Linked DNA regions of Homo sapiens. The main gene of each other region encodes a partner of the protein of the gene in region 2 in a complex. Each region holds a gene or a part of one and is shown on either strand. Other genes may lie near its edges. A codon is read from its position in the direction of its gene.

What was found.
Region 1: the proteins of APLN (region 2) and APLNR are in contact, whole or in part, in a cryo-EM structure (PDB 8XZG), measured with the Homo sapiens proteins. Residues at the interface, in NP_059109.3 of Homo sapiens: Arg66, Pro67, Arg68, Leu69, Ser70, His71, Lys72, Gly73, Pro74, Met75, Pro76, Phe77; in NP_005152.1 of Homo sapiens: Tyr35 (codon at 5,898), Phe78 (codon at 5,769), Trp85 (codon at 5,748), Tyr88 (codon at 5,739), Thr89 (codon at 5,736), Tyr93 (codon at 5,724), Ser106 (codon at 5,685), Ile109 (codon at 5,676), Phe110 (codon at 5,673), Met113 (codon at 5,664), Pro163 (codon at 5,514), Val164 (codon at 5,511), Arg168 (codon at 5,499), Gln180 (codon at 5,463), Cys181 (codon at 5,460), Tyr182 (codon at 5,457), Met183 (codon at 5,454), Tyr185 (codon at 5,448), Glu194 (codon at 5,421), Glu198 (codon at 5,409), Leu201 (codon at 5,400), Gly202 (codon at 5,397), Ser205 (codon at 5,388), Tyr264 (codon at 5,211), Lys268 (codon at 5,199), Tyr271 (codon at 5,190), Ser275 (codon at 5,178), Cys281 (codon at 5,160), Asp284 (codon at 5,151), Leu285 (codon at 5,148).

The regions. Positions count from the first base shown.
Region 1 is NC_000011.10:57,231,005-57,247,287, forward strand, and holds APLNR (apelin receptor), read right to left. Parts: upstream 6,247-16,283; 5' UTR 6,001-6,246; coding exon 4,858-6,000; 3' UTR 2,587-4,857; downstream 1-2,586. UniProt on the Homo sapiens protein: G protein-coupled receptor for peptide hormones apelin (APLN) and apelin receptor early endogenous ligand (APELA/ELA), that plays a role in the regulation of normal cardiovascular function and fluid homeostasis.
Region 2 is NC_000023.11:129,647,732-129,663,289, reverse strand, and holds the start of APLN (apelin preproprotein), read left to right. Parts: upstream 1-8,333; 5' UTR 8,334-8,659; coding exon 8,660-8,726; intron 8,727-14,497; coding exon 14,498-14,664; 3' UTR 14,665-14,669; intron 14,670-15,372; 3' UTR 15,373-15,558. UniProt on the Homo sapiens protein: Peptide hormone that functions as endogenous ligand for the G-protein-coupled apelin receptor (APLNR/APJ), that plays a role in cadiovascular homeostasis. Functions as a balanced agonist activating both G(i) protein pathway and beta-arrestin pathway of APLNR.

The DNA.
Region 1 (16,283 bases), on a different chromosome or scaffold from region 2:
ACACTCCATGCTTCAGAGCAGGCTCCAGGCAGGCACCGTGGCTGTAAAGTCTCCCCTGACGCCCTGCCTGACTCCTTCCATTGTCTCCACGACAGGCCCTCGAACACTTCACACATTCCCTTAGAACTCACCACCCTGGGCTGTAATCGCCCATTTCACTGTCTGCCTCCACCAGCCGACTGCGAGCCCACTGGAGGCCGCTCACCATTTGGTCCTGCGTCCAGCATAGCGCTTGGCACATACGTGATAAATAAGGACTTGTGGAACAAACAGATGAATGAATGGGTGAATAAATGAAGGCATGTGTGAACCAGTGAATTAGTAAGTGCTGTCACAACCAAGGGAAGGCTAAAACCGTATCATGTTTTGGATAGCTTACCTCAGATTTCCCAGGAGACTTGCTGAGGTTTTTTACAGCATCTGTAAAAATAATGATAATAGTGGCTCCAATAGCCTGTTGTTGCCGTCGTAAATTCCCAAAGGGCTTTCCCTGGTGTGTTTCAGAAGAGGGAGAGCAGGCACTGATTCCCTGCCCTCAGTCTCCCTCCCTGCCTCCCCGTTTCTTCTTCCCACCTATGTTCTCACTCTCTGTCTCTCTCTGTCTCTATTTCTCTCTCCTCACTCTGCCTCTCTTTCACGGTCTCTGTCTCTGTCTTTGTCTCTGTTTCTTTCTCTTCCCACTGTCCCTGTCTCTCTCTCTCTCTCTCTCTTTCACTCTCTCTGCCTGTTTCTCTCTCTTCCCTCTCTCTCAATCTCTCTCTCCTCTCTCTTCTCTCCCTCTCCTTCTTTCTGTCTTTTTCTTTCACTATTTCTGCCTCTGTTTCTCTTTCCTCTCTCTTTCTGTCTCTCTTTTCTCTTTCTCTCCCTCCATCTCTGTCTCTTACACTATCTTTGCCTCTGTTTCTCTCTTCTCTCTCCCTCCCTCTGCCTCTGTCTCTATCTTTTTCACTATCTCTGCTCTGTTTCTCTCTCTTCTCAATCTCTCTCTTTCTCCCTGTCTCTCCTCTCTCTCCCTCCTTTGTCTCTATCTTTCTCTTTCACTGTCTACCTGATTCACTCTCTCTTCCCTCTCCCTCTGTCTTTTCTCTCTCAATTCCTCTCTCCCTGCTTCTATATCTCTCTCTTTCACTATCTCTGCCTCTGTTTCTCTCTCCCCATACTTCATTTCTCTCTCTCTGTCTCTCTCTCTCTTTCTCTCTCCCCCTCTCTCTCTTCCCTTGTCTCTATCTTTCTCTTCACTATCTCGCCTCTCTCTCTTCTTTCTCTGTCCCTCTGCTTTCTCCTCTCTGCCCTGTCTCTGTCTTTCGGGTACTCTCCATCATTTCCCTCCCCATCCCCATTCACTCTCCACTGTGTGCCAGGCATCTCACACAGAAGTTCTCACTTTCCTTCCCAGACACCTAGTGTTGCCTCATTTGTACTTTGGGAGAAACATCCCCTTACCATGGTCAAGAATGTGGGCTTTGGGCTTGGGAGCCAGACAGATTCAGCTGGTTCCAAGCCCAGCTCTTCCACCTGCTAGTCTGTGATCTTGGTCAAGAGGTCTAACTAACCTCTCTGAGTCTCAGCTTCCTTATGAGCAAAATGAGGTGAAAATGCCCCCTCTTAAAGGATGGCTGCAAGGATTAAATGAGATAATGCTTGGGAAATGCTTAGCACAGTGGCAGAACTCCATAAATGCGAGCTCTCTTGTTACTATCAGTTCTACTATGATTATTATTTTTTTGCATTGTCTGCAAACATTATTAATACCCAGGAGATCATTATTGAAGATGACAAATACCTCTGGACTGAATAGCCCCACCACCACGCCGACCCCAGGATCATTTCAGCCCCTTCCCCCCTCCTCCAAATAGATGACCACCAAAGCCCAGTTGGCTGTGGTTCTGACCCTCTGGTCTTCTATGCCCACTTTAATTTGGGCAGAATCCATCTGGATAGAGATTCCCTAAGCCTGGCTTTCCCAAAAAATTATCTGAGTTTTTAGTAATTGTAAATATCTGGGGTGAGTCAAGGAGAGTCTGACTCCATAGGTCTGGGGTGATACCCAGGAACTGGGTATTTTCAAAAGCATCCAGAGCGACTCTGATTGGAGAACAGGGATTCAAGCTTCTGGTCTAAACTCAGTGGCTACTCAAGTGATATTAAGTAAATCAATCAATAGGAGATGGTAAATGAATAAAGGCATAAATGAGTAGATGGATTGGTGGATGGATGGATGGATGGATGGATGGATGGATGGATGGATAGATGAGTAATAGGTCTACCTCCATGGGAAGAAATGCTGGTATTTTTCCCCAGACCTATGCTCTGGCCTCCAAAATATGTGTCCTTTTGTTCTGTGGCTTTTCAGAGCACAACACTTAGCTGCTCCCCTGTTTCTTTTCTTCCTTTTCTTCTCTGCACCTAAATCCCATCCTTTCCCTTTCCTGATGCCTATTTCCTCCATCCTCTCTCCCTCCTCACTTCGCCCCCTCCTTTTAGCTCCCACTTCTCTTTACGGCTTCCCCCTCACCATGCTGAAACATTTGCAAGCTGGAGGTTATCCCAAGACACTTTCATGAGAAGAGGCTTTGGACACAACAGTTGCACAAACAGTTTTATTTGATGAACCACAGTGACTAACAGGATCAGAAGACAGTGCAGATATTCTGAAGAAGGCACTGGGGGAGGTAAGGGGGTATCACAGCAGGCAGCCTCCTCTGCTTCTGTCCCAGTTCACAGATGAGTTCCAGGCAGGAAGTCTCTGCAGGTCACCCACGGCGGCCTCAGAGGGACAATTTCTTCCCTTCTAGAAGCCTCTTCCAGTGTTCACTGGATGCTTTGAGGACAGCTCTGGGCAGAGGAGGTGACTCTGTGAAAGATGCTATCTTAAGATGGGGAGACTAGGCTGTGAGGAGCCCCTTCCCCTCTCCTCCTCCCTCTGCCCCCAGAGCTGGCGTCATTCCAGGGAGGGTCAAGATGTCCATTCACATCAAGCTGGGCTTTTCTTATCTCCATCGCTCATGTCTTGTCCTTCACTTTCATAGTCCTCCAAGAACAAAACCCGGAATAGACACTCCCAGCCTCTAGCTCACAAAGGCCCCACTATTAATTTCATCCTCACGGTCTCTCTGGCAGTGTAGACATCATGCTATCTGCACACTTGCTCCAGTCCCTATTCCCAGATCCCCAATCCAGCAGAAGCCAAGAGGTCCAATCCTGAGGGTAGGGAGAGAAAAAACCCACCCCGTGCCTTTTGGCCCATGGCAAGCAGGAGGCCTCCTTAGGAAGAGGGCCACTGACCCTGGAACAAGAAAGGACGATGAGGGCAATGCTCATAAATTTGAAGCCAGGCGGGGAGGCACCGGAAAGGGGCCAAGGGAGGCTCTCAACTAGCCTCTTACTTCCTTCATGGAGCCCAAGAAGGAGCAGGAACCCAGCTCAGTAGGACGCCCCCAAGCCTTGGCGCCAGCTGCTTTGGGGAGGGATCTCCCTACAGGAAGCCTGGTGCAAACATTAACTTCGCTCCTAAAGCACGGACCAGCCGTTGGAGCCCCCAAATCCAGTAGGGGGTGGACTCATTTTTATTCTACATTTTTCATTGCCTCAGTGTGTCCCTGCCCCCCACCACCCCCTGCCAAGGGTAATGTGTGAACAGCAGAGTTGCAGTGGATTGGGGGGTGGGAGGAGGTTTGTCCAAATGACCCAGGCACACTGCTGTTCATGCCAGGCTCATCCATATAGACATATAAGTACAACACACACAGACAAGAGGCAGGCATCTCCATCCCAAACAACATGATTCTTGGCACCAAGTAGCACCAGTGCCCAAGAAAGAAATCAGTATGATGGGGTAAGATGGGGAGATGAGGAAACCCTTCAGCTCACAGTTATGCAGGAAGTCAGAAACAGGAGGACTCGGGGAGCGAGCCAAGCAGTGTCTGGACTAAATGCAGACACCCCTCCATCCTCTCTCTCTAGTTGCCCTTCCCAACTCCCCACTCACATAATGAAACCAAGGAGTACATCCATTCATCAGCCCTGCTGCCTTCCAATTCTCATAGAAAATAGAGGAAGGATGAAAGGGTCTGCGGACAATTTGGAGAAAGCATATCTAGTCAGTGTCATGGTGCCATGGGGGAACTGCAGGAATCACACTAGCCCCAATGCCCAAAATGACAGGGAAGTGATCCAATTTTAGGGCAAGCTCTGGAGCTCCCAGATCTAAGGGCTGGAGCACTAATTATCTGCTGACACACAGCCCACCCCCGGCCCCAGCCCATTCCCTGCCTCACACTCAGAAAACAGGATAGAAAGCTTAAACAGGGTCAGTCTCTGCAAGCTTTGGGATCCTTAACCCTTAGTAGCCCTTCAGAACAAGAAAGTAGACAGGGGAGAAGGATGGATGGAGGGAGGGGGACGAGCTGTAGGAGGGGATTGGTGCCAGAAGGCAGGGATAAGGAGCGGCAGCTGCAGAGAGTGGTGGGGGAAAAACTACAAGGAAAGAAGGGAGGAAAGACGATTGCAGATCTAAGAAAGCAGCAGAGGGAAACAAGCTTTTACTGCGTCCAGACTCAGGCTTCAACATTTTAGGATCAATATGACTTTCCCCCATTTCATACCAATGGAGAAACTGAGGCTGAGTGAGATTAAATGGCTTGTGCAGGGTCAGGTCTGTAGAGCCCAGTCTCTTTCCCCTAAACCACAAACCTCTGAGAAAGAATAAAGCAGTAGAGGAGGACAGGGCGGGGCAGAATCAGGGGACAGTTAAAGGATGTGCATAGGACAAGGAGTAGCCACACTACCTGATTTTCAGAAAGCAAGGGCAAAGGCCGGGGAGGGCCGAGGGCGCCAGGCTTCTCTCTGCTCCCAGCCCTAGTCAACCACAAGGGTCTCCTGGCTGTAGGGGATGGATTTCTCGTGCATCTGTTCTCCACCCTTGCCCATGTTGGGGCCGGGCCCCTGGCTGTGCCCCGAAGAGTAGCTGGCTGACTTCTCCCCACTGCTGCTGTGGGAGGTGCCTGCGCACCTGCTCTGGCCACAGCAGAGCATGGAGGTGCAGGCCTGGCGGAAGCGGGGGTCGAAAAAGGCATAGAGGAAGGGGTTGAGGCAGCTGTTGACGTAGCTGATGCAGGTGCAGTAGGGGAAGATGTTCATGAGGAAGAGGTCAAAGTCACAGGGCCAGTGCAGCAGGCTGCCCAGCATGTACAGCGTCTTCACCAGGTGGTAGGGCATCCAGCACAGGGCAAAGGTCACCACCAGCACCACGATGATGCTGAGCAGCCGGCGCCGCTTCCGCAGGCCCTCGATGCGTTCCTTGCGGAAGTGGCCAGCGATGGTTTGGGCGATGAAGAAGTAACAGGTCAGCATGATGGTGAAGGGCACCACAAAGCCCACGGTGGTGGACGAGACCCCAAGGCCCACCTCCCAGGCCCACTCTGAGCTCACAGTGGCCACCATGGAGTAGTCCATGTAGCACTGCACCTTAGTGGTGTTCTCCAAGTCCCCGGTGGTGCGTAACACCATGACAGGCATGGCCAGGAGGGCGGCCAGCACCCAAAGAACTGCCGTGGCCACGGCCCCGCTGACCCGCAGCCTCAGCCGAGCATTGGCCACTGGCCTCACGATGGCCAGGTAGCGGTCGAAGCTGAGGCCGGTGAGGCAGAAGACGCTGGCGTACATGTTGACGAAGATGAGGTAGCTGCTGAGCTTGCAGAAGAAGGTCCCAAAGGGCCAGTCATAGTCCCGGTACGTGTAGGTAGCCCACAGGGGCAGCGTCACCACGAAGGTCAGGTCAGCCACCGCCAGGCTAGCAATGAAGATATCAGCTGAGCGCCTCTTCTCCCGGCTGCTCCGAAACACGGTCCAGAGCACCAGACCGTTGCCCGTGGTGCCCAGGAGGAAGACCAACATGTAGATGGCAGGGATGAGGGCCCCCGAGGATTTCCAGTCTGTGTACTCACACTCAGACTGGTTGTCTGCCCCATAGTAGTTGTCAAAATCACCACCTTCCTCCATGCTGGGGAGTGGAGAGAAGACGGGCAGAGGGTCCCAGGGACACCAGCTCCGTGGCTCTGTCACCCACTCTGCAAGCAGCCTGAATTTCTGGCTTGAGCCTCAGAGAGTAAGAAGGGCTGAAGATGCCCAGAGTCCTTCCCAGCACTCAGGAGGAGCTGCCTCTGGGTTCTCCAGACCCTGGAGGAAGCCTGTCTCCTGCAGAATTTCCTCCACCCTCTCTTGCCTTACCCCCGTCTCAGTTAAGACACTTCCTTGCACCCTCCTGCGTCCCTGTCTCCTCCTTGACTCGTCACTCCCTCCTCCCACCTCCAGACCAGCCCCTCTCTTGTGAGTCAAAATCTTTAGTGACAGCCCACTTTTTTTTTCTTTTTGTCACTGAGCAAGTGGACCAAATTGACCCCTACTGTGCTGGGCTGAACATTATCTGTGGTTTTGCAAGTCGGCTTTCCTGGCCCCGCCTCTCCTTTCTGGCTGCCACCCACCTTCACCCCAGCCCCTATCCCTCCACTTTCCTCTGGCCACCACTTCCTGCCTGCCCTTTAGGGCACTCCCTCCTCAGTGCTCTCCGCCCTCCTGTTCTCACCCCCTTCCATCCAATCTAAATGGGACACATTATGCAGATTGCAATCCAGCTTGAGCTGGAGCCAGGGCTGGTAGGGAGCAAGGAGGGTGTAAGATTTCGCAGGATGGGCAGGGCATCTGGCAGGTCCTCCTGGCAGGCAGGTCTGGCCCCCTCGGCTCCCTTCCTGCACCCCCAGCCCCCACCCAGACCAGGTGTCACAGGAGGGTCTTCTCCCACTTTGCCTCTCGCTTCATCTTTCTCTACCCCTTGGCTTTGACCCTCCCTCTGAGAACTTTTGTGGTTTCTAGAGAAATACCCCTACACTAGTGTAGACTGCAGTTTGCAGTTTGCGGAAGGCACAGGATGCTTTAGAAGGTTGAGGGCAGTCACAGGATGGAAGAAACCCAGGACAAAATTATCTCTAAACAAGTCATTAAATCTGTAGGAAACAAAGGCCCAACAAGGTCAATGTTTTGCCCAAGGTAATAAAGTGAATTATGCTACAGTTGATTGTTTGCTTTTCTTCTTCTCCAAACACGAACATAATACAGTACCTGGCATGTCGTAGGTGAATGGCTGTTTTGTTTGTTTGTTTGTTTGTTGAGACAGAGTTTCACTCTTGTTGCCCAGGCTGGTCTAGGCTCACTGCAACTTCTGCCTCCTGGGTTCAAGCGATTCTCCCGCCTCAGCCTCCCTAGTAGCTGGGATTGCAGGCTAATTTTTTTGTATTTTTAGTAGAGATGGGGATTGACCAGGCTAGTCTCAAACTCCTGACCTCAGATGATCCACCCACCTCGGCCTCCCAAAGTGCTGAAATTACAGGCATGAGCCACCACGCCCAGCCAGGTGAATGGCTGTTGAGTGAGTAAGTGGATGGATGATGTAGGAGGTGAGTGAAAAGGGGAATCCATAGATGGAAGAACAAGTGTAAGAATTACTACGTGGTGAGAACATGGATACATTTCAGTTCTCAGGTTTTTACTATCCTCCATGGACCAAGAGGTTTCTGTAAGACCACAGGGGGTCAGGAAGTTGAGCTAGAGGAGGGGGGTCTCTAGAGAAAGACTCAGTCACTGGAGGATACTGTGGGGAAAGTTCCGTAGACGCTCACTTTGCCCCAGCTCATCACCTCTCCAGGACCTCTAGGAAGGAAGGAAGATGCACGACGTAAGATTTTTTTTAAAAAATACGCACCCTTTCCACAACCTTGAAGAGTTGGGGAAGCCACCTGACGTTGGGTAATAGTGAGATGGAACAAAAGCAGGAGCTGAGCCTTAGCCACTTCCAAGGCAAAAGACTTACAAAAGCTGGAATTGGCCAGGCAAGGTGGCTCATGCCTATAATCCCAGCACTTTGGGAGGCCAAGGCAGGAAGACTGCTTGAGCCCAGGAGTTCAAGACTAGCCTGAATAACACAGCCAAGACCCTGTCTCACGATATATATTTGTCTTAAGTTACTACAAAAGCTGGAATCCATTTTCTGGAGGGAGAGTGGATCAGAAAATCATATGCAGAGATCAAGGAACTCAAACTCAAATACCTGCAAAAAAAAAAAAAAAAAACAGGCCAAGAGTGTAGTTTGAGACAACAGAGAATGGTAAAGACTGTGGCAAACTGGAGGGTGCCCATTCCATCATAGGGAGGCCTCTTCAGCTCTAGTCTCTGGTTGCCACGCAGAAAGCTGGACCCCAGCATGACTGTGTCTTAGGATTTTTCCAAGATAATTTCAAATTATGGATTTTTGTAAGAAATTTTCATATTTGTAAATTTTGGAAATCAATTTTCATTTCAAAAAAAAGCACAGACCATGATAAGTAAAACATGTCTTTGGCCCCCGAGTTTGTGTTCTTTAAACAGGAGCTTGCCAAGAATAGAAGGCAGGAGAAGAACCAAGAGGATGGGGCAGGAGGAGGAAACAAAAAATGCAAAGATAGAAAAAGCCTTAGAGTGCAGTGGGGAGATACAGGAGAGAAGGCTGCAGAGAGAGATTAGAAAGATCCTGTGACCTTCACCTAAATGCAATGTGGAGTAATGAATATGTTGGTGTTTCTCATGAGGACTACATGTTGCCCACTTATTGTGTGCCAGGCAGTCTTCTAAACATTTTATACATTCTACATATATTTATTAGTATCTCTTTTAATCATCAAAATGACATTAGGAGGCAGGTGCTCTCATTAGCCTCAATTTACAGATGAGGAAACTGAGGCACACAGAGGTGAAGCAGTTTAGCCAAGATCACCCAGCAGTAATTGTCAGAGCCAGAATTTGAACCAAAGCTGTCTCGAGCCCATGGACTAAACCACTATGCTCCCAAAGAAAAACGCCCAATCCTTTTTAAACTGAGGGGTGTGTCATCTGTTAAGCATTAGAGAAATGTAGGGCGATGCCAGGATACCTGTAATTTACCTTAAAATAAGCTCTACCGGGTGAGATTTTAAATAGATTGACTATTTAGAGACACACCTCACATTGATTAGACAGGGTATAAGAATCCTGCCAGGCAATAATCTGTACACTTAGGGTTAGCACCATAGACTTGATCCAGAAACCACCCTCGCTCTAGCCATTGCCAAAGAGAATTCCTGGTTGCCTGGTGCCAGCTAGAAAGCTAACAGGACTCTGCCCCTGGAATCTTGGCATTCTGTACAGTGGGGGCTGGGACACCCAATAGGATCCAGAGCTGGGGCTCCATCCATCTCACAGTACACAGGGTAGGAATTGCTTGGGGCCTCTTGCTCCTGCATTTTTGGCTAATAGAAGTTCTGCGCAGATGGCAGAATGGTTTTCATTATATCCTGACATTCATTCATCATATCATGATTCATTCATCATATCCTGATATAATAGTTTCATTATATCCTGACATTATATCCTGGGTGGAAATAGCTAACCTTTGGCTACCTCAGACTTCTTCAGTGGTAAGCTATCTTTACCTATCAAAGGGGACCTTGGAGTTGTGCAGGGACCAGCTTGGCTCAGGTCAGGTCATAATAGATGGCCCTTTTACGAGTAAACATTACTGCTTGGGACATTCCAGGATAAAGACCAAGTTTGAGACGCCTAGTGATCCCAGTTCTCCCATGATTCTCCCAGAAAGATGCAGATGTCTGTGCCCTTTGCAGCTAGAAATACAGAGAGAAGGGAGCTAGCAAGCTTGAAGCGTCCCTGAAATCAGGTCCCTGTCTCCCTCCCCTCAGCTGTTCCCACTGGAATGCTGAGCCAGACAGGAGCCTGGAGACCCCTGTGGGAAAGGATATGGATCCATCGCTTTCATCTGCCGACCTCCAGGATGTCTGCCCTAGAGGGAGTAAAGAGCAGTTAATCTCACTAGAGTTACCAGACTCATTGAGAGGGGAGGGAATTGGGGGCCAGGGCTGGGAAGAGGCCACCGTTTGGGACCAGAGAGGGTAGAGTGCTGATAAGATCCGGCCTCCAACCAGGAGCCAGCTGTAGCCAGATGGCCTGAGTGCCCCCTGCAATGACAGCCTGAAGTGAGCAGAATTAGCCAGCTCACTCCTTATCCTGCCTGATCTGATCTGTCCCTGTTCCGCATTGCACCATTCCACACAGAAGAAAGACTGGAAAATAGGACCAGTAGCTGAAGATGAAACTTGTGTGTCCCGGGGCTCAGAAGTATATGGGTCCTGGGCCTCACAGACTAGACATATACAAGGCCTGGGACAGATATCTTCTTTTCATTTCTGCCCCCCACCCTACTTGGCACCTGGTAAAAGTCTGTTGAATTAAAGCAATAGAAACACACTCAGGAGAAGGGTGTAAGACTTGGATCTTCACCCCAGAGCTGCTCTACTGCATTAACAAGGCAACTTTTGCTAAAGTGATCCAGGAAATTCTACTCTGAGCTATCTGGCAAACCAATAGCTAAGGCAAGCCTGTTGGCCAGGGTGCCCAGAGCTGGCCTGCCCTGGAGAGGCCTGCACAGGTTTCCTGGGGAACTTCCCTCTCTCTCCTGGGTGATTTCTTCAGGGCATTGTGATGAGACCGAGATGAATGACACCTGGCAGAAAAGCACTCCAGACCTGCTAGTGCCCTTTGAGGAGAGCCCAGACTTCTGGGAGACCTCTGGAGTCAGTGGTTCAATATTCCTCACCCACCCCACCACCAGGTTTGTGCCTGGCCTAAAAAGCAGAGCCTGACTTGGCCTGTGCCCATGGACATGCTGACTATGTGTGCTTTGTGAATGCAAGTTTTCTGTGTGCCACGAGGTCACTTGGATGTGAAGTCTGTAGGTGCTTGTGAGCAGGCTGAACTTGTGTGTGCAGGGGGATATGAGTGTGCACTGGGTGCATGCATTCATGGATGTAGAATAGTGTGCTTGCTTGTGCATAGTGAGGTAGGATGTGCATTGGGTGCATGCATTCATGCATGTAGAACAGTGTGCTTGCTTGTGCATAGTGGGCTATGATGTGCATTGGGTTCATGCATTAACGTGTATAGAAGAGTATGCATGTTTGTGTGTTGTAGGCATGAGCGTGCACTGAATGCACACATTCACCCAAGGAATGTACATCAGGTGCGTAGAAGAGTGTGCTTGCTTGTGTGTAGTGGGATCAGAGATCTGAATAAACACACTGCTTGCAGTACAGGGACGGGTGCTTAATTGGATCTCTCTAAGAGTTTGGGATGAAGGGGGAAAGCTGAACCCCTCTGCTGGGACCTCACCCAGACCCTACCCAAAGCTGTGGGCTGGGGACATCAAAGTGGAAGTACTGCCTTTCTGTGCTCTTCCTGACTTCTCACCTCCTCCCTCCTAGCTCTCTGCTCCAGCCCCCTCACTTCACAGGTCTGCTTTGAACTCCACAGCTTGGGAACTCACCCAGGGCAACAGGGCCTTTTTCTCTCCTTCCCGAGAGGCAGCCACAGCTGTGTCCCTAACAGCTGGTGGTGTTATCTGAGGGAAAGGGGAAGGGAGGGCAGGGACACAGGAGGGATATAACTTGACTGCCCAGCCCACACTGAGGAATTTCACCTCTCCTTTCTCTAGCACACAACACCCCCAACCCCCACCCTAGGCACGCGCGCGTGCGCGCGCGCACGCGCACACACACACACACACACACACACACACACACACGCCCGACTTTAGCAGCTTATCTGACCAAAAACAAATGGTCAGCCGCTTTCTGATAATTAAAACAGAAACCCCCTCAGCAACTCTCTCCACCCCCAACCCCACCATTTGGTGCTATTTCAAACTCTAAGGCCATACTGCAAACTCCCAAAACTCCCTGGTCTCTGGGGACAGCAAGAAAACTCACCCACTGGCCTGGTTCTAGCTTTCTGTGATTCTGGGAATTACGGCTATGGCTTCCAAATATGGTTGGAGAAGTGGGTTTCTTGCCAAAAAGATCAAAAGTGGGAGACAAACTGACCCTCTTGTTCTAATCCCATCCTAATTCATTCACTCAGAAAATATTGAGCAACTACTGGCCGGGCACGGTGGCTCACGCCTGTAATCCCAGCACTTTGGGAGGCCTAGGTGGGTGGATCACCTGAGGTACGGAGTTCGAGACCAGCTTGGCCAACATGGGGAAACTCCGTCTCTACTAAAAATACAAATATCAGCCGGACATGGTCGCGGGCGCCTGTAATCCCAGCTACCTGGGAGGCTGAATAAGGAGAACCACTGGAACCTAGGAGGCAGACGTTGTAGTGAGCCGAGATCGCGCCACTGCACTCCTGCCTGGGCAACAAGAGCGAGACTCCATCTCAAAAAAAAAAAAAATTTGAGCAACTACTATGTGCCAGGCTCTATTTGAGGCACTTGCCATACAGTGTGAGCAATTCAAACTATGCCCTCGGTTTCCTGCACTTTCATTCTAGAGGTGGAAGAGAGACAAAACGATGAAAGTTAGATAAATGCAGTGAACTCAGGTAATGATAAGCACTACAAGGAAAGATAAACTGGAGAGTGATGCAGCGAGTAAATGGAAACTGGCATTTTCAGATAGTATAGATCGGGGAGGTTTCTTAGGAGTCACTGATATCTTACCTGAACTCCAATAACTAGCTTGCTTTGTACCCTGGGCAAGGCTTTTGCCCCTCTCTGTGGGGCAGTTTCCCTATCTGTACATGAGGACATTGGGCCAGCCGGGTTTAGCTTTCTGTGATTCTGGGAATTATGGCTATGGCTTCCAGATGTGATTGGAGAAGTGGGTTTCTTGCCAAAAAGATCAAAAGTGGGAGACAAACTGACCCTCTTGTTGATGAATGGCAAGATCACATGAGAATCCATTCTCCCCACTACAGCACCAAGCCCACTTTGACGGGCTATTTGTTAGACTGTGAGAATCAGGGGTCTGGAAGCCTTTCCTTATCTCCCACCCACCTCCTGTCACCCTTTTACCTACCATTACCCACCCATCCCCCCATTACTTGGCACAGCGCCCCATACATAGTGCCCTCTAATATATGCACTGGAATTGTAGGACCCCCATTTCTATAACCTCTGGAGTAATCAGAACTTTCTTAGGGGCTGGGCCTGGTGGCTCACCCCTGTAACCCAGCACTTTGGGAGGCCGAGGCAGGTGGATCACCTGAGATCAGGAGTTCGATACCAGCCTGGCTAACATGGTGAAACTCTGTCTCTACTAAAAATACAAAAAATTAGCTGGGCGTGGTGGTGGGCACCTGTAATCCCAGCTACTCAGGAGGCTAAGACAGGAGAATTTGCTACGAGCCAAGATCACAGCATTGCACTCCAGCCTGGGCAACAAGAGTAAAACTCTGTCTCAAAAAAAAAAGAAAAGAAAAGAAAAGAAAGAAAGAACTTTCTTAGGACAATCTGGATGGGGCACTGGGTTCCCATGACTTAGAACAGGAAAGATGCCTAAAATTTTATTAGCCCATTGATTCCCACGCTGACATCAGAGACCCTTGATGATAGAAATGGGGAGAGAGGCAGTAGCTTGGGCCAGCATCAGCATTTCATGAAATCTTGTGGAAATGGCACATTCTTCTCACCCTATCATAAGACAACCCTCTTTAAATGTCAAGCACCAGCACCGCGAGCTTAGACTTTAATAAATTAGTGTGGGGACTCTGGTTACTCCATGCTGCTCATCATGCCTTTGATGAATAAAAACTGAGCAGATGAATTCATTACGATTTCATAAACAAGGTGGGTTAGATCAACAGACTCCTTCCTTAAAAAGGATTCACTGTGGGGAGAACAGGAAAGCAAGCGAGACAGTCTTTGATGCCGAAAGGTTGTGGCTGCGATCTGCTCCACACACTTGACCTTACCCATGGGGAAAGCAAGGGAGGGAGAGCCAAAGGGTTTTGTCCAGGTGTCCCTATGCCACCCTGTCTTCTCCTCCCACCCCCAAAGGTTAGGTGCAGAGGAAGTCTTTGTTTGGCTGAGAGGAGGGACTTGGGCAGGAGGCCGTGAAGACAGGAAGTACAGCAGAGGCAGGAAGGAGGTCAGGAAGAGGCTGACAGGACCAGGCCGGCTCACACCCAGCCCTGCCAGCCTTCAGGAGAGCAACATGGTGTTTCTAAAAATATTTACAGTGAGTCTACATTAATGAGATATATATCAGCACTGACAATGGGAGGATGCTGGGCCAGGCCCTCCAGGGTAGAAGACCAACGCAATTAGCCCAGAGGCTGCACAAAGGCAAGGCCAGCCTTGTGGGAAGGCCTTGTGGGAAGTCTTGGGGAAGGCCAGCCTTGCACAGCTAAAGGAAGAAATCAAGCCTTCCACCCTGGGGCCCAAACAGGCAATGGAGACCACAGTGCCCCAGAAACCTCCCCCGGGGAACAGAAAACATCCCAGATTCCTGGACCTGCAACGAGCATCTTCAACCTGCATCCCTGACCCCAATTCAGTGCAGAAATCTCCTCTACCACACCCACTCTGAGGACCATCCAGGGGTCTCTTGAATACCCCTGTTGACCAGACACTCAATCCTGCCTCCAGCAGCCCATTCCCATTCCAGTCTTGGCATCCCTACCCATTCAACCTTCAGGAGAGGAGAGTGGTTCAGAACATAGAGGCTGGAGTCAGGTAGCCACTTACAAGTCACTTTGCCATGGAGCACCAAGGAGTGTGATCATTTCAAGTCTTGGTTTTCTCATCTGTAAAATGGGAGTCATTAGAATATCTACTGCCCCAGGGCTGGTATAAGGTTTCAGCAAGGTAAAGGAGACAGCATGCAAAGAATGCCATGTGGACAGAAAGACACAGGCTAAGGTGCAAAGATGCAAAAGGAAGAATTTAAGGCTGGGTGTGGTGGCTCACGCCTGTAATCCCAGCATTTGGGAGGCCAAGGCGGGCAGATCACAAGGTCAGGAGTTCAAGACTAGCCTGGCCAAGATGGTGAAACCCCACCTCTACTAAAAATACAAAAATTAGATGGGTGTGGTGGCGGGCGCCTGTAATCCCAGCTACTTTGGAGGCTGAGGCAGAGAATTGCTTAAACCTGGGAGGCAGAGGTTGCAGTGAGCCGAGATCGCACCACTTCAACCAGCCTGTGCAACAAAGTGAGACTCCATCTCAAAAAAAAAAGAAGAAGAAAAGAAAAGAAAGAAAGAATTTAAAATGTCCTAGGACTAAAGTGACATAAGGCTAAGAAAATTAGCAAATGCCATTTTGCTGCTGAAGAGCTAACACTGCACTGTGCAGTGGGCGAGCCACTTGCCATGTGTGGCTATGGAGGGCTGGAAATGTGGCCAGGCAGATGGTGGGACACTGCAGGTGTAGAACACACACTGGGTTTCAAAGACTTAGTATGAAAAAAGAACGTAATATATCTCATTAGTAATTTTTTTCTATTGATTGCATGTCAAAATGATAACATTTGGATATATTAAAGTAAGTACATTGTTAAAATGAAGTCTACTTCTTTTGTTTCTTTTACTTTTTTTTTTTTTTTTTTTTTTTTTTGTGAGACAGAGTCTTGCTCTGTCACCCAGGCTGGAGTGCAGTGGCGGGATTTCAGCTCATTGCAACCTCCGTCTCCCAGGTTCAAGTGATTCTCCCGCCTCAGCCTCCCGAGTAGCTAAGATTACAGGTATGTGCCATCATGCCTGGAAAATTTTTGTATTTTTGGTAGAGACAGGGTTTTGCCATATTGACCAGGCTGGTCTCAAAATCCTGACATCAAGTGATATGCCCACATCGGCCTCCCAAAGTGCTGGGATTACAGGAGTGAGCCTCCATGCCCAGCCTCGTTTACTTTTTTAATGTGTCTACTAGGAAAATTAAAATCACATATGTAACTTCTGTTATAGTCCTATTGGATAGTGCTGAGCTGAAGGATCATATCTAAGCCTTAGGATGCTCACTCTGGAGGCATCTTTGAGGATGGGTTAGAATGGGTTAGGCTCGTTAGGAAACAGGTGCAGTTTTTCAGACCAAAGGCCCATATTAAGGAGAAGACTCCAATTCCAATTTTCCAACTACAGGTAGTTTGTCACCAACAAACAAAAAATAATAATAATAATAGTAATGGCTCTTACTTATTAAGTGCTTACTCCATGTCAGCAGGCACTGTTCTAGTGAAGGACCATGATTTTAAAAAGTGAACTCTGAAAGCAAAAATGCCTGGTTTTAAATCCTGGTTCTGCTAGTATACGAAGCCTCAGTTTCATCAACCTTAAAATAGGGGTAACCGTATATAGCATTGTCAGAACTACGAGATACTAGGCTTAGATACCAGACTTAGGTAGTCATCTCTTACTATTACTCCCATAGT
Region 2 (15,558 bases):
GCTCTGAAAGACAAACAGGAGGAATGGGGACCTGTGTGGCTATGGGAGAGGATCAGAAGGAATGAAGCAGGATGTAGGGAAAAGGGGGTAATTCTGTGGAGCTGGGCTGGGCTGGGGGCAGGAACAGAGGAACAGTTCTTCACCTCAGAGAATCTCTCTTAGGACTTATTCAGCTAATAAACTGTGAACCCTTCAAAGACATTTGAAATATAGCTGATTATCTGAATTCCACTGACAACATTTTTCAGGAACTTGGGTGTTGTGTCAAGGAAGGCGTATCTGTGGGAACCCCTGGTGTTCCTTGAATATATCAGACGATCTGAGAAGGTATGTAGTTTGCAAAGAAGTTGGAAGAAACAGAGAAATGGAATAAGCATTTCCAGGGCAGTTGGAGCCCATGTGGCAGTGGCTGAAAGGTGTCCCATGGAAGGAATTAGCATGTAGTGACTTGAATATAGTATTAAACACTTGAGATGTGAATAGAGATAATGTGGTTATGCTGCAAAATGGCTACTTCTCTAATTTTTGCAAACCTGATACCGTGTGATGGTTAGTATTTGACTCTGTGTGCTTGGGAAGAGGGCAAGTGTGAAAGACAAGATCTCGGTCTGTGGCCAGGCTTAGGACCTAGCTGGTGATCAGAATTAAGAGGTATTGGACATCAAGACAAGAATCACACAGTTAGCTGAAGAAGAAACCCCAGCAAAGTCCAACAAAGAGATTATTCCCTCAAAATGATTATTAGGATCTTTTGATTCACAGAATAAGTTCCAGGCTAAGTTTCACATAATGAACATCATGTCTCTGATTTAAATGGTCTCACACCCAGAATGGGAAAGTGAACCCATGAATATGGCTTAAGCATCTACTACTCTATGGCAAGCATTGTGCTGGCTGCTCTGGTGGTTATAGATGAGTTAGAAAGCTCAACTCTAGCCGTTAGTATCAGAAAGACAAATACTCAGTAATGAGAGAGTGAAAAATTCATGTTCTCTTGTGGTGGTTAACTGAGCAAAGATAATTTGTCATGAAGCTAGTTAGTGAGGCATCAACTAGCAGCTGGCCCATGCTTTTTTCCCCCAAGTTCCTGTTAAGTAGCTTCAGAGGCAGGGTAAGCTTTGAAGTTCTTCTTAAATACTTTTTCCCGATGTTGCTGCTACTGAACTTCTTTTGCTCATTAATTTAGCTTATGTCTTAAGGAACAAATTAGATGAGTGACAATGGGAAGACTCATTCTGAGATGCTCCAAAAGCGCTGGCCTATGGAATGAGAATCCTGTGCCTAACCACAGTCATTTTGTTGTGCCTATGCAGCCAGCTAGGGGACTGCTTGGCCAGTGAGCGCTACTTCTATGCTGGGAAGACACAGAAGGAAAAATAGGAGTTGGGATTTAGTTGAACCTAGGCTCCGTCCTGACTTTGCCACCAGCTTTCTGTGTAGCTTTGGGTAAGTCACTTTTCCTTTCTGGACCTCAGTTTCTCCATCTGCATAATGAGGGGGTTGGGGCTCTTGCTGTTATGAAATCTCTCTGATTGCTGGCCAGGGTCATCCTTCTTCAGATGTCCTCTCCCCACTCCACTTTTTGCATTGATCCAGTAAAAACAACTACTACACAATGAGGAGAGGGAAGATGGTCACATCTTTGTGTATGTCTGTTAGCTGTTAGTGTTGACCCATCTAAGAACCAGTTGGACAAGTTGTGATGATTTTGCCCAAATAGAGACACTTGATATGGATCATAAACCTAGAGCAATTATTAACAAGAATATACAATTCCTTCTTTCATTCAACAAACATTTATTGAGTATTTGCTTTGGGCAACAGCACTGCTGGTGAGAATATAAAAACGAATAAGACATAGTGTTACTATCTCATATAAGTCAGAGATATATACAAATACCCATGGGAATATGTAACATTTACACAATGCTTCCCTTACTATAAGAACCAAACTCAGTGCCGAGTACTTTATAGGTATTGATTCTTTTAATCCTTTCAGTAACAATGGGAGCTAGGTGCTAGCCCTTTTTTCTGATGAGGCACCTAAGGCTCAGAAAGGTTAATAATTTGCTCAAAGTTACCTATGTAGTAAGAGACAGAGCTGCCTTATTCTAGAACCCATGTGCTTAACCACTATGTACTTCATGGCTTCCTAATTCAAGACAGTATGAGTTAGGTGCTAGAAGTTCAAATAAAGTGATAGGTGGACCCAAAAAGTGAGAAACTGCTTCTTTTTTTTTTTTGGAGACAGAGTCTCACTCTGTCACCCAGTCTGGAGTGCAGTGGCGCGATCTCGGCTCACTGCAAGCTCCGCCTCCTGGGTTCACGCCATTCCCCGGCCTCAGCCTCCCGAGAAACTGCTTCTTGATGTTCAGTGAGGAAAGAGTGTGGGCTTTGAGGTTAGGCAGTGATATAGTTTGGTTCTGTGTCCCCACCCAAATCTCATCTTGAATTGTAATCCCCACATGTTGAGGGAGGGACCTGGTGGGAGGTGATTTGATCATGGGGTCGTTTCCCCCATGCTGTTCTCATGATAGTGAGTGAGTTCTCATAAGATCTGATGGTTTAAAAGTGTTTGGCAGTTCCCCCTCCCTCTCTCTTTCTCCTGCTGCCTTGTAAGATGTGCCTGGCTTCCCCTTTGGCTTCCACCATAATTGCAAGTCTCCTGAGGCCTCCCCAGCCATGTGGAACCGTGAGTCAATTAAAACTCTTTTCTTTATAAATTACCCAGTCTCATGAGAACTCTGCCCCCATGATCCAGTCACCTCCCACCAGACACCACCTCCAACACTTGGGATTATAATTCTACAGGAGATTTGGTGGGGACACAGATCCAAACCATATCAGAGCCCTTTCTTCCTGATCAGTTTCAGAAGGCCAGAGGATAGACCCAAAGGTGGGGGGAGAAGCAGGTCAGGAAGAGGAGAAAACTAACATCCAATGAGCAGGGGACTGTGCTAAGTATTTTACACACATTATCTCATTTAATCTCCCAACCATAATGTCTTTGTCCATTCCTGTTGCTATAACAGAATACTCGAGACTGGATAATTATAAATAATCCAAATTTATTTCTTACAGTTCTGGAGGCTGGGAAGTCTGAGATCAAGGTGCTGGCAGTTTCTGTGTCTGATGAGGGCCCAGTCTGTGCTTACTAGATGGTGTCTTGAATGCTGCTTCCTCTGGAGCGTTCAAACACTGTGTCCTCATATGACATAAGGGACAGAAGGGCAAAAAGGGAACTAGGGTGCCCCTTCCAACTTCTTTTATAAGAGCACTAATTAATTCATGAGGGTGGAACCCTCATGACTTAATCAATCTCAAAAGGCCCTTCCTCTTAACACATCACCTTGGGCTTTTAATTTCAACATATGAGGCCAGGCGTGGTGGCTCACGCCTGTAATCACAGCACTTTGGGAGGCCAAGGCGGGGGGATCACCTGAGGTCAGGAGTTTGAGACCAGCCTGACCAACATGGAGAAACCCCATCTCTACTAAAAATATAAAAAATTAGCCGGATGTGGTGGCACATGCGTGTAATCCCAGCTACTCTGGAGGCTGAGGCAGGGGAATCACTTGAACCCGGGAGGCAGAGGTTACGGTGAGCCAAGATCGTACCATTGCACTATAGCCTGGGCAACAAGAGTGAAACTCCATCTCCAAAAACAAAAACAAAAAAATTAAACATATGAATTTTGGAGGGACACATACATTCAAACCTTAGCACTTAAAAAATTAGGTACCATTATTATCCTCATTTAACAGAGGAAAAAACTGAGCCTCAGAGAAGCTGAATAACTTGCCCAAGGTCACACAGCTAACGAATGGGGTTGAGGGGCAGGATTTGAATTCAGTTATGTGAAACTCCAAAAGCTGAGTTCTTTTTAATGCCTCACACTGTTCACTTTAACCCACAAGAGACGTGGATGAGTCAACTGAACAGCAGTGGCTGGTGGTGACATAGGACAATAAGCAGAACTGAATAGCATGTGGATAGCTCTGATGAGGGGGGCAAGTCACACTTTGAACTCACATAGGTCAGCTATCTCACTTCTGTCCCCAACAATGCACTGAGTCCTACCCTTGCCCCCAGGATTGTCCCTCACCTTGACTGGAAACTGAGTCTTGCTGCTGACCACAGGTCCTGAGCCCCAAATGCAGCAACATTTCCAGAAATTTTACAGCTACTTGCTGCCTCAGGGCAGGAGAGTGTGGACAGTTTCATGTACCTCCTTCCCATCTCCAGAGAAATACCTTGAAACAGTGGTCCCCACATTTTTGGCATCAGGGATTGGTTTCATGAAAGACAACTTTTCCATGGACTAGGGTTAGGAGGGATGGTTTCAGGATGACTCAAGTGCATTATATTTATTGTGCACTTTATTTCTATTTTTTTTTTGTAATATATAATGAAATAATGCTACAACTCACCACAATGTAGAATCAGTGGGAGCCCTGAGTTTGTTTTCCTACAACTAGATGGTCCCATCTGGGGGTGATGAGAGACAGTGACAGATCATCAGGCATTAGATTCTCATAAAGAACATGCAACCTAGATCCCTCACACATGCAGTTTACAATAGGGTTCGTGCTCCTATGACAATGTAACGCCACTGCTGATCTGACAGAAGGTGGAGCTCAGGTGGTAATGGGAGCAATGGAGAGCGGCTGTAAATACAGATGATGCTTCGCTGGCCCATCTGCTGCTCACCTCCTGCTGTGAGGCCTGGTTCCTAATAGAACAGGGAGCCATAGTGGTCCATGGCCCAGGGATTGGAGACTTATGCCTTAAAACATTTATCCTGCTGATATTCATTCAATAGTATCCTGAACAAAAGACAGCACAGTGTTGGGCCGACAGTTGCTCACCTGACAGGCAGTTATGAAGTATCAATTATGTGCCAGGCATTGTGCTAGGTGCTATCACAGCAGTGACCTTAAAGTCTGGCAAATAGATACAGATATTCGAAAACTGGTCATTTCAATCTGATATTAAGATATCTGGGAGCCTACAAGGGGTTCAGAGTGGGCAATCAGAGCTGCGTTCCTTGCCTCATGGGCCTTGACCCCTGAATGGATATGGTGGTGATGGGTCCTCTCTGCAGAATTACAGCAGGCCCGTAGAGCACAGTGTGCAGATGCAAAAGTGTTCCTGATGCACTGTGAGAGGACCTACCAATGACAGGTACAGCCATAGCTGTTATGGAGAGGGCAAAGTCACTGTGGGCAAGGGTGTCCTGAGAAAGAAAGATGAAATCTTGGATCTGGGACTACGAAAACAGATGTGGCCAGGCATGGTGACTCACACTTGTAATCCCAGCACTTTGGGAGGCCGAGATGGGAGGATTGCTTGAGACCAGGAGTTTAAGACCAGCCTGAGAAACATAGTAAGACTCAGTCTCTACAAAAAATATAAATAAATTTAAAAATTAGCCTGGTATGGTGGTGCATGTCTGTAGTCCCAGCTACTTGGGAGGCTGAGGTGGGAGGATCACTTGAGCCTAGAAGTTTGAGCCTGCATTGGGCTGTGATTGCACTACTGCACTTCAGCCTAGGGTAACAGAGCAAGACCCTGCCTCTAAAAAAAAATGGATGTAATTTGGTTAAATGAAGAGAAGGATTCAATTAAAAAATGATTCTCCCAAGTGTCAGATCTTTAAATCTTACTCTAAACGCATGCCTTCAGCTTGGCTTGAATTTCTATTGGTTTGCTTTTATGCTTTTTTTCCCCTCACCTTGTACATTTTGAAGGCTAGGTAGGGTGGGAAAATGGATTATAGAAAAAAGAAGAATGAATGAATGCTCTAACCAATAGAACTTTCTGCAGTGATTGAAGATTCTATTCTGTGCTGTCCAATACAGTAGCCACTAGCCACATATAGGCAATTGAAGCGTGGCCAGTGGAACTGAGGAACTGAATTTTAAACTTCATTGGAAATATGATTAGTGGCTATTGTATTAGAAAGCGCTATGTGTTCCAACCACTTAGCAATATGCCATACACACCCTAGTAAAGGTGCAATTAAATATGAAGGCTTCTATTAACCTAGTTATGGGGGACACTTATTTGGGTGTGCATGGGCTTGCCCAATCAAGGATTGGAGCACCAAGTTTCCTAAAAACAACCCTGCAAGAGCTTATTCTTAATTTGCACGGTACCTTCAGGCACATTATCTCACTTAATCCCATAACAACTTTGAAGTGGGTAGAGCAGAGATTATCACCTCCATGAACCCCAGTAAGTTTAGGTGATGATGGCAAGGCCCTACAGCAAATGAGGGTGGAGACTAGAAGCCAGGTGTTTCTCCTCCTGGTTAGAAAATGCTTTCCATCCAGGCGTGGTGGCTAACGCCTGTAATCCCAACACTTTGGGAGGCCGAGGCGGGTGGATCATCTGAGGTCAGGAGTTCGAGACCAGCCTGACCAACCTGGTGAAACCCCGTCTCTACTAAAAATACAAAATTAGTCGGGCATGGTGGCGCATGCCTGTAATCCCAGCTACTCAGGAGGCTGAGGCAGGAGAATCGCTTGAACCTGGGAGGCGGAGGTTGCAGTGAGCTGAGATAGGGTATTGCACTCCAGCTTGAGCGACAGAGCAAAACTCGGTCTCAAAAAAAAAAAAAAAAAAAAGAAGAAAGAAAGAAAAAAGAAAAAAAGAAAAAGAAAAGAGAAAGAAAGCAAACTCTTTCCAGGGGAACAGTGAAGGGAGAATGGTCTCCTGCTACCCATGTCTGCTACTCATATCCTGGGTCTCAAGGATGAAGAGGGGTGCCATGCTTCACATGCTTTTTTTTTTTACTTGAGTGTGGTTAATGGGCCATAGGCTATTAATGAGAACCTTATCTTATTCCCTTCCTGCTACCTGAATTTAGGCAGTAAAGATGTTTTTGAAAATTTCATTTATATATTCAAAATTATGTATTGAGTACCAGTCATGTCGCAGGTACTGTTCTAGGTCTGGGGACACAGCTGTGAACAAAGCAAAGATCCCTCCCTTGTGGAGGTAACCCTTCTGGTGGAGAGAGACTGATAATAAATACATTGTGTATATATAGGATTTTTGCAACATTTCAAAGATATTTTAAATATGCCATGGTCTCTCATGTCTTTTATGGCACACACGCACCCTGTCCAATGTATCTTTTGTGTAAATCTGGACTTAACACTTCAAGCAAACTGCCTGGCTTGCTGAAAGGTGGAGACACCTTTCGATTCAGTCTTTTAATATGTGTTGAGTGCCACCTATGTGCAGAGCAAGATATTGGGGACTTTGGAGAGATCCAGAAGAGTGAGAAGACAGTATCCTACCTTAGGGGGTTCCCAGTCCAATGAGGGAAGCAGCCCCATGCCTTGGGAGCTCCCAAGCTATAGAAGCAGCTAACAATCGAGTCTGGAAAGGCAAACAACTTCAGGACCCGCTTCTAAAGCGGAATCGCAAGTACACGCAAAATGAATCCAGCCTTGACTGTGTGGAGTTGGGTAAACCACCTGCCTCTTACGTTGATGGGGAACTAGAATGAGGACAGCTCCAGGGAACAAGAAAGGGTAGACCATAGGAGCTGTCCCATGTCCCAACAGTGGGGAGGAGCTGATGGGCGGCCCCTGCTGGATTAGTGTTATCCTGAGAAGGCTTCTGGATGCGATGGGATTTGAGGTGCTGCTGCAAAGAATGAATTGCTCACGGAAGGGTGGGGTGGGGGCATTCCAGGTAGAGGGTGCCTCCTGGGGGATGCAGGGAACATGAGGGGCCTGGGCAATTAATCAAGCCTTGGGCACAAGCCTAGGCAGTCACCCCCAATTCAAAGCCAGTTGAAAATGCAGAGGAGAGAGGAGGGCCAGTGTTTGGTTGTCTTGACCAAACCCTTGAAGCTGGCCAGCGGCAAGGGCAAGGACCAGGGTCAGAGGTAGAGGGCGTGAGTGAAGGCAACCCAGACTGAGTCCTTCCCTAAGCGCCCAGGTTTCCTGACAGCTGTTAAGGAAGCAAGGTGAGAAAGGGTTAAGTGTGCCCCTCCACCGCCCCAAATGCTTCCTGTGTTTGAAATCCTTCAGGTCTCTGCAAACCCTCTGGCCCCCGGCCAGGCGGGCATTGTCCGGGGAGCGGTTGTAGGTTGTCAGAGAGGCCGCGCAGCCTTTGTTGTGGGGCCACCTCGGGGTTCCCTCTCGCGCTCACGCTCGGGCTGGGGCTGCAGAGTGCGTGCCTGGAGGGGGGCGGTGCGGGAGGCTCGCTCCCTCTCCCTCTTCCTGCCCCCCCTCTAGCCCTCCCGATGACCACATGACCAAGTGGGCTCGCGGCCAAGCCACAAGCTACAAAATGCAGCCCCTGGAGTGAGCGGGGAGCATTCTCTCTGGCAGCCGGGGTCACGGGCAGTTGCAGCCGCGGCCGAGCAGCCAGCCGCTAAGAAAGAGCTCGCCGCTGCCGCTCCCGGAGCCGCCGAGGCCAGCTTCGCGGCGCTGCCCCGCGGCGGGAGAGGAGGCTGCAGAAGAGCGGAGGCGGCCAGCGGGAGCGGCGGGGCTCAGCGCGCACACTCAGCGGCCGGGGAGCCTCCCGAGCTCTGCGCCCGCACGCGCCAGCCGCGGCTCGCGCCTTTCTTGGCCTCCGGGCGCCCGACCTCTCCTCCCCCGCGCCGGCTCGCCGGGGCCGCGGCGGCCCAAGGAGCAGCATGAATCTGCGGCTCTGCGTGCAGGCGCTCCTGCTGCTCTGGCTCTCCTTGACCGCGGTGTGTGGAGGTGAGTGCGCGCCCTCCCGCTCGCCCGGGCTGCAGCCGGCGTGCTCCTTTCCCTCCGCCCTATTCGCACTCTCCCCGCCTCCCGGGGAGCCCGGCGCGAGCCGTGCAGTAGCAGCCACGCGCCGGCCAGCGCCAGGCAGCAGATTGACAGAGCGCCCCGAGCCATGGGGCGGCTGGCCACAAGGACTGCTTCTTTTGCGGGGCTCAACTCGGCCTTTGGCATCACCTGCCCGTCACCTTGTCCCTCCTAACCGTCGCTCGCAGTCCCAGGAGCTCAGGACCACAGGTGTGCGCCGCGTGTCCCACGCCCTGCACCCCGCGTGGTAGAGGTGGAGGCGGGGGACATGCCCGCTCCCTCGTGGATCGATGGAAGGAACTGACCAGAGTCGAGTGGGCTGGGCTCCCATGTTGAACGTCTTCTGGTCCCTGAAGGCTGGGAGCCTCCCGCCAGTCCAGGGGCGCGGGAAACCGGGGATGATGTGCCAACATGCAGACGTGACACTTGTTGCATAGGCAGGAGTGCGCGGAGGGGGTGGCGGCATGGAGCCCAGCTGTTGCTCCTTTCGGCCTGCATGTGTGAGCAGAGGCAGCCTCCCCCAGGCAGGGCCGGGCCCAGCCGGGCTGGGCTGGTCTTCTCCTCCCTAACCCCAAGGTCCTGGCTGGTCTCCTCCCCTGCACAGGATGCCCTCCCCATAGCCTCCATCCCACCCCCAGAGACTTGGTTCTCTTACATCCTGGCTCCAGCCTTCCTTTCTGTCCCAGGCACGGACATGCTTCACTTTAGTCTCCCTGCCGCTAGGCACCAAAGGAGGAAGCACAGCACCTGACCCGACCCCTCCCTGCAGCTCAGGAAAGGGGAGTCCTTTTGCCCTCACCTGCCAATACTTGGCACTAGTGCCCATGTCCGCCCCTAGCCTGGTCCCCAACCACGCCCCAGCAGCCCCATCCCAGGCTGCCTGTCCTCTGTGTCAATGTCTCCTGGGGCTGCCAGCTCCCACCTCCAGCTGCCACAGTCCTATGATCTGGCTGTCATTGCTGCCTGCCTGGCACCACACAAGGGGAAGGCCAAGACCAGGTGGACTAACGCCAGGACCATGGCTGGAGTCACAGGGAGGTGGGAGCAGAAAGAAGGAGAAGGCAGGGCAGTGAGTTTCCTGGGGCAAGGGCACAGGGCCCTAAGTGGTTCCAAACCCTCCAGAACAGGAGGATGGCATGCAGCCCAGGAGCCTCCGAGGGGCCCAGCCAGCTCTGCCTGCCTCTCATCGCAGGCCACCTCCTTTCTCTGCTCTTGCTTTTTGGCCCTGCTGTGGCTCTGGGAACACTGCCTGGCTTCTCAGAAAGGTGCAGTGGTTGGGGCTGGCACCTCCTGCCTCCAGGTAGCTGGCCGGTGATTTCTCTATTCAAGACCTGAACACGAAGTGAGCCACCACCACAGTAAGAAGTGGGTAGGCTTTTTCCACAGAAACTCCTGTCAGGCAGGTAACAGAGGGAGCAAAAGATACGAATGTAAGATACGAATGATACACCATACCAGCCTATCCTCAGGGAGCCTACCATCTGGTGTCATTGGCAAGGCATGACACTTGCACAATACCACCACAGGCAAATAGTCCAGGGTGGTGCCTTCAGGGAAGAAGAAGACTGGGTGCAGAGAGTGTTCCAGAGGAAGGTAGGGCTCCTGGATCTGCACACTTGGTGCTCCCCCCAGAGGCTGTGGGGAGACCCCTGGCCAATAGACAACCACTCAGACCCTCCTGGGTCCCAGCCATTGGGACAGTACTAGCAAAGGGGAGAGAGCTGGTTTCAAGGGAAGGGAAGTCAGCCAGGATGCCCGAACACCATGTGGCTGGTCCAGAGCCTGCCACTTCGTGCTTTAATTCCCCCGTCTTCATTAGGTCATCTGTCCACTGTGATTTGGATAAATTCGTTGCCCTCACATTTTGCTCAAGCCTCGTGCTGGAAACTTTCAGGGCTCTCACTGACTTCTCTACTCCCTGACTTCTCCTGGAGCCAAGGAAGGGCATGTCCCTGGAAGTGGCCACCAGCCAAGGGTCCAGGTACACATGTCCTGCTCCCGCTGGCTCCTGTCCTGGGTTAGAAGCAGGAATCCCAGAACCACTTTGTCCTTGGCCCGGACTGGCATGCTGTCCCCAGCCAGAGTCCCCAGTCAAAGTTCCAGCCTGAAAACCACACTTCCTCCTCTCCACAGTCTGTCCTGACTTGAAATGTCCACCCCCGACCCCTCTCCACGCTGCCTCTCATCACCCCGCTACCACCACGTACACTCCTCCACTGCCTCCTGACCTGGGATACACTTTGCTCTTGTGAGTCTGAGAACTCCTGGTCCAGGGCCAAGTGTCCCTCGGTCTCTGAGCACCCCTCTTTTTCCCCTTCTCCTCCCCCTCCGCAGGCCCAGCTCAAAGCCTGCAGTCACAGTGGGAGTGTGAGGAGAGCCTACTGTACCCCTCCTGCTCAGGGAAGGGCATCTCTACTCCATCCCCAGTCCTCAGCACTAAGCACCCGTGTAACCTGAGCCAGGCCTCTCCTCGCAAAGAACTAAGGCAAGGGAAGCAGAGGGCCACCAGACAGAGCATGATGTATCCCAGGGCAGCAAAGCTGGCACTGGAGACAGCACAGGGCCCTGGAGAAGGCGACTGGGATGGGGGGCTGGGCAGACAAAGAGACACATGCAGGACCACAGAGCAGTGGAGGGGCATTGCCAGCAGGGTCCCCACCGGAGCATACGTTTGGGCTTTTAAAGTCATCACAAGACAGGCCAGACTGAGAGAGGAAAAACAGGTGCGTCATTCCTGATGAGACTGGCATGTTCCTGAAAAGTCGCAAGTACCTCTTTGTGCATTGGCAGGGTTGGAGTTCAGATAGCATGAAAGTCAAATCCTGTCCTCCCCCTGACTGTGGTTCTCAGCGTGGAGATGTTGTAGCTTCGTGGCTGATGGCACTTCAGCAGGCAATGGCTCCAATCTCTCTAGGCTCGAGATTGTTTGGAGGATTGCTCCAGCCTCCTTTTACGTAGCAAATGAGCTGGAAGAAAATATTTAAGTGCATTAGGGCTGGCCTCCATTTCTAAAGGGGAATTCTTTTTTACAGTCAAGACTTCTGCAGTGATGAGAATCAACAGCCTCTAATTTGTTCCTTTGGACAGCATAAAGCCAGGGTTTCAGATGTCAGCTTATCTGATGGTGAGCCAGACTCAGAATCAAAAGTAGGAAACAGGTGGGTGACGGGCTCAGAGTGCGGGAGGAGCCAGCAGATCTCGGTGATGCTGAGGACAATGAGTCCCCAACGCAATGGGAGGGATGCAAGAAGCCTGGGGCTGCTCTCCAGGGCCCGGCTGGGGGTTCAGTCAGCTCAGAGTGGTTCTTCTCTGCAGACCTAGAGTCTAGACATCTTCCTGGCCAGAGCCACCAACCCTGCTCCCCATCCTGACATATGGCCTCTAGCCCTCCCTTTCTGACTGCCAGACACTCACAATCTGAGCACCTGGAGATGATGCCCTCCCCCTCCTGGCACCATGCTTCTCTTCTCCATGTCTGCCACCACCCTGAGCTACAATGGCCTGCACCACTGCCCCATCCCTTCTGCACCCCCAGCAGTCGAAGGTGCAGAGGTGAGAGCCAAGTGTTGACTTGGTTCACTTCACAAGGCCCCTAGGTCCTTCCCCTGCTCCTTATCAGCATCATTCAGATCCGCCCTCAGTGATCAGGGTGAGCCTTGTGGGGACCCCAGAACTCAAGGCAGAGGCTGAAGCAGCTGCAGTGGGGAGCTTAGTGAAGGTCTTTCCTTCCTTTCCCTCTCCAGCCCCAGCCCCCTCACAGATGGCGCCAAGAGGGTAGCTCTATGACAGTCAGACAGAAGCAGCCCCCTTGTTCCATCCATACTTACTGCTCCAAAGTGCTAAGATAATTCTTCTTTTAATTCTCATAGGTTATGAATTTAAGGGATAAGTTGGCACGGAAGTGTGGCTAGTTAACCAAATGACCCAAGTCAACAGCGGGGTCCTCATGGGCCTGGCAATTTTTCTTGGGGAAAGAGGGAAGGAGGGTGCAGGCTTGGAGAATATGTGTTTATGTGTGTGTGTGTGGAGGGGGTGGGTATGTCTGGGTGTGAGTGGGGAGAACTGCAGGCTCAGAAGCCTGGGGGAAGAGGGCCCTAAGGCCAAACCCACCCACTTTTGGCCCAAGAGGAGGCTGAACACTTGGAAATTGTGTGCAAGCAGAGGAGGACTCACAAAAACCAAGGAGCCAAGGAAGGAACAGAGCGTGGGGATGTTGGAGGCAGAGGCAGAGGGGAAGGGGGAGCTGCCAGGGGTATGATTGGGGTGTGAGCAGCCAATGGGAGGCTCTATGGAAACTGTGAGCAAGTGGTGGGAATTCCTGGGTAGATGGCAATGGGGCTCGAGGGACAGGGATCTAGATGCAGGCAAATCAGATGGTGTGCAGGGGGAGAGAGACTGTTATTCATTATCTCTGGCCTCAGATGCTGTATCTGCACAGGCCTGTACTGGACATTGCACAAGTACCCTGCCTGGCTGCCTCTTCCCCAGCACCATCTCATCTCCACACACTGCCTGCCACCACCAGCCAGGCTTGTCTTGGGGGTGGCAGCTCAGCTTCCCTGCATGGACTGCAGGCTTCACGAGAGTCGGCCTGCATGCCTTTTCCCTCACTGCACCCAAGGATACCCTGCACCACTTGGATTCCATTGTCAGGGCTCAGTCTGGTGTCAGGAGGCCTCTACTCTAAGCCTCCTGACAGATGTGGACAGATGTAAAGAGGAGCCCCAGAGTGCAGAATAGAAGCCAGCTGGGATTGAAATGGAAGGAATTTACATGAGACACAGGATGCAGGGTGTGATCTGGGAATTTCAGGAGGTAGGGCATTGGTGGGGAGGTACCAACTGCAACAGCCCACCCCCCTCCTGGTGCACAGACATGCTGCTGAAGGTGACCATTGTTTCATTTATTCATTCTCAAATATTCATGCAATATTTATTGGTCTCTAAATCTGGTCTCAGGTCTCTAAATCTGGTCACAGCATGAGGCAGGCTGAGTCAGAGACCTCTCCCCCTTAACCCGCCTGGCCCAGCCCCATCCACTGGGAGGACTTGGCGCCCTAGAGATGCCTAACCACCGATGAGACACCCAGGGGCGAGATATGAGCTCCCTAGTACTCACAAGTGGGTCATCCTGCATATCAAAGGATGTAGGAGTACAATGACGTGATGTTCGGGATTTGCTTTAAAATACTGCAGTCAAGGAAAATAGAAAAGGGATAACTAAAGCATATGTGACTCCATCTGGATAACTGTTGAATCTGGGTGATGGGTCCATGGCGGTGGGAGGGTCATTGTAATGTCATATGTCTGAAATGTTTGAAGTGTACCAGTTGCAGGGGTGCCGTGGTGATTACTGCCTCCTGCCCCCCAGCCAAGTACAGGCGTGACAACCCAAAGTGCACACCCCCCAATGACGTTCCAAAGAAAGAACCCACTTGTGCCTGTCAGAAACATGATATAACTGTCAAAAGGACAGAAAGTCAGCTACATCAATGGCAAGATGTGAGTAGTAGGTTCCGTTTGTCCCAGGACAGTGCAGAAATGGCAAATTTTCCCTCAATATGAAAAAAAGAAACAAAGAAAATCTATGAGAAGTGCCACCACATGGACAGACCACCCCTCCCGCGGGCCTGTGGTCTGCAGCCCCTGCCCGTTTCCAACAACCTTCCTCACTAACAGGCTTTCTCCTTCCTGCAGGGTCCCTGATGCCGCTTCCCGATGGGAATGGGCTGGAAGACGGCAATGTCCGCCACCTGGTGCAGCCCAGAGGGTCAAGGAATGGGCCAGGGCCCTGGCAGGGAGGTCGGAGGAAATTCCGCCGCCAGCGGCCCCGCCTCTCCCATAAGGGACCCATGCCTTTCTGAAGCAGGTACTTGAGCCTCTGTTCAGTGGACAGTGCTAAAGCGGAGGGAGAAGGACAGCCTAGAAGCCGGGTGATCCTGCCGCTCATCACTGGCCAGACACATCCATCAAACAGTCCTGGCGCCACACTCACAGAGGCTTAGAGCTGGCAAGAGAGCTTATGGGGCAGCTGTCTAGCCCCTTTATTTTACAGACGATCTCCTCGTCTGAGGCCTAGAGAGGGGCTTGATACTTGGGGCCAGTCTCCCTTCCACCCTGCTGCCTGGGGTTGGGGAGGCTGGCCTGCTTAGAGATTTCTAGACATCCTGGTGGACCTTAATGGCTGGGGAGGGGTGCCCAGGGCAAACCTACAGATGTCCAGTGTAGATTGTCGCCAGAGTTGGGGAAGGAGGCAGAGAGCTCTAGGGGCTCTCAGGCAGAGAACAAGAGGACAGTTGTGGCTGTGGTTGCCCGGAGCTGTGAGAAGGAGGGAAGAACCAAGGTGGCAGCAGAGAGAGGAGAGCTGAAGCCTGCCCCTTCCCTGGTCTGCTGGCTGTCCCACTGCAGTGGGGACAGGCAGGCACCAACTCAGGGGCCTTGGGATTGAGGTTTGGGCTGAGTGGAGTTTGGGGGAAAGAGAAGGCGGTCTCCTCTCTCCTCTCCTTTCCTGGGGAGTTCCTTTGGCCTAGGATATGTCCATGACTTCTCTCTTGTCATTTTTGTCTCCTTAGGACTGAAGGGGCCCCCAAGTGCCCACCCCCGGCGGTTATGTCTCCTCCATAGATTGGTCTGCTTCTCTGGAGGCCTCACGTCCATTCAGCTCTCACCTCGCACCTGCTGTAGCCACCAGTGGGCCCAGCTCTTCTCACCTGCCTGCTTCCCCCAGTGGCGTGCTCCTGGCTGTAGTTTGGATGATT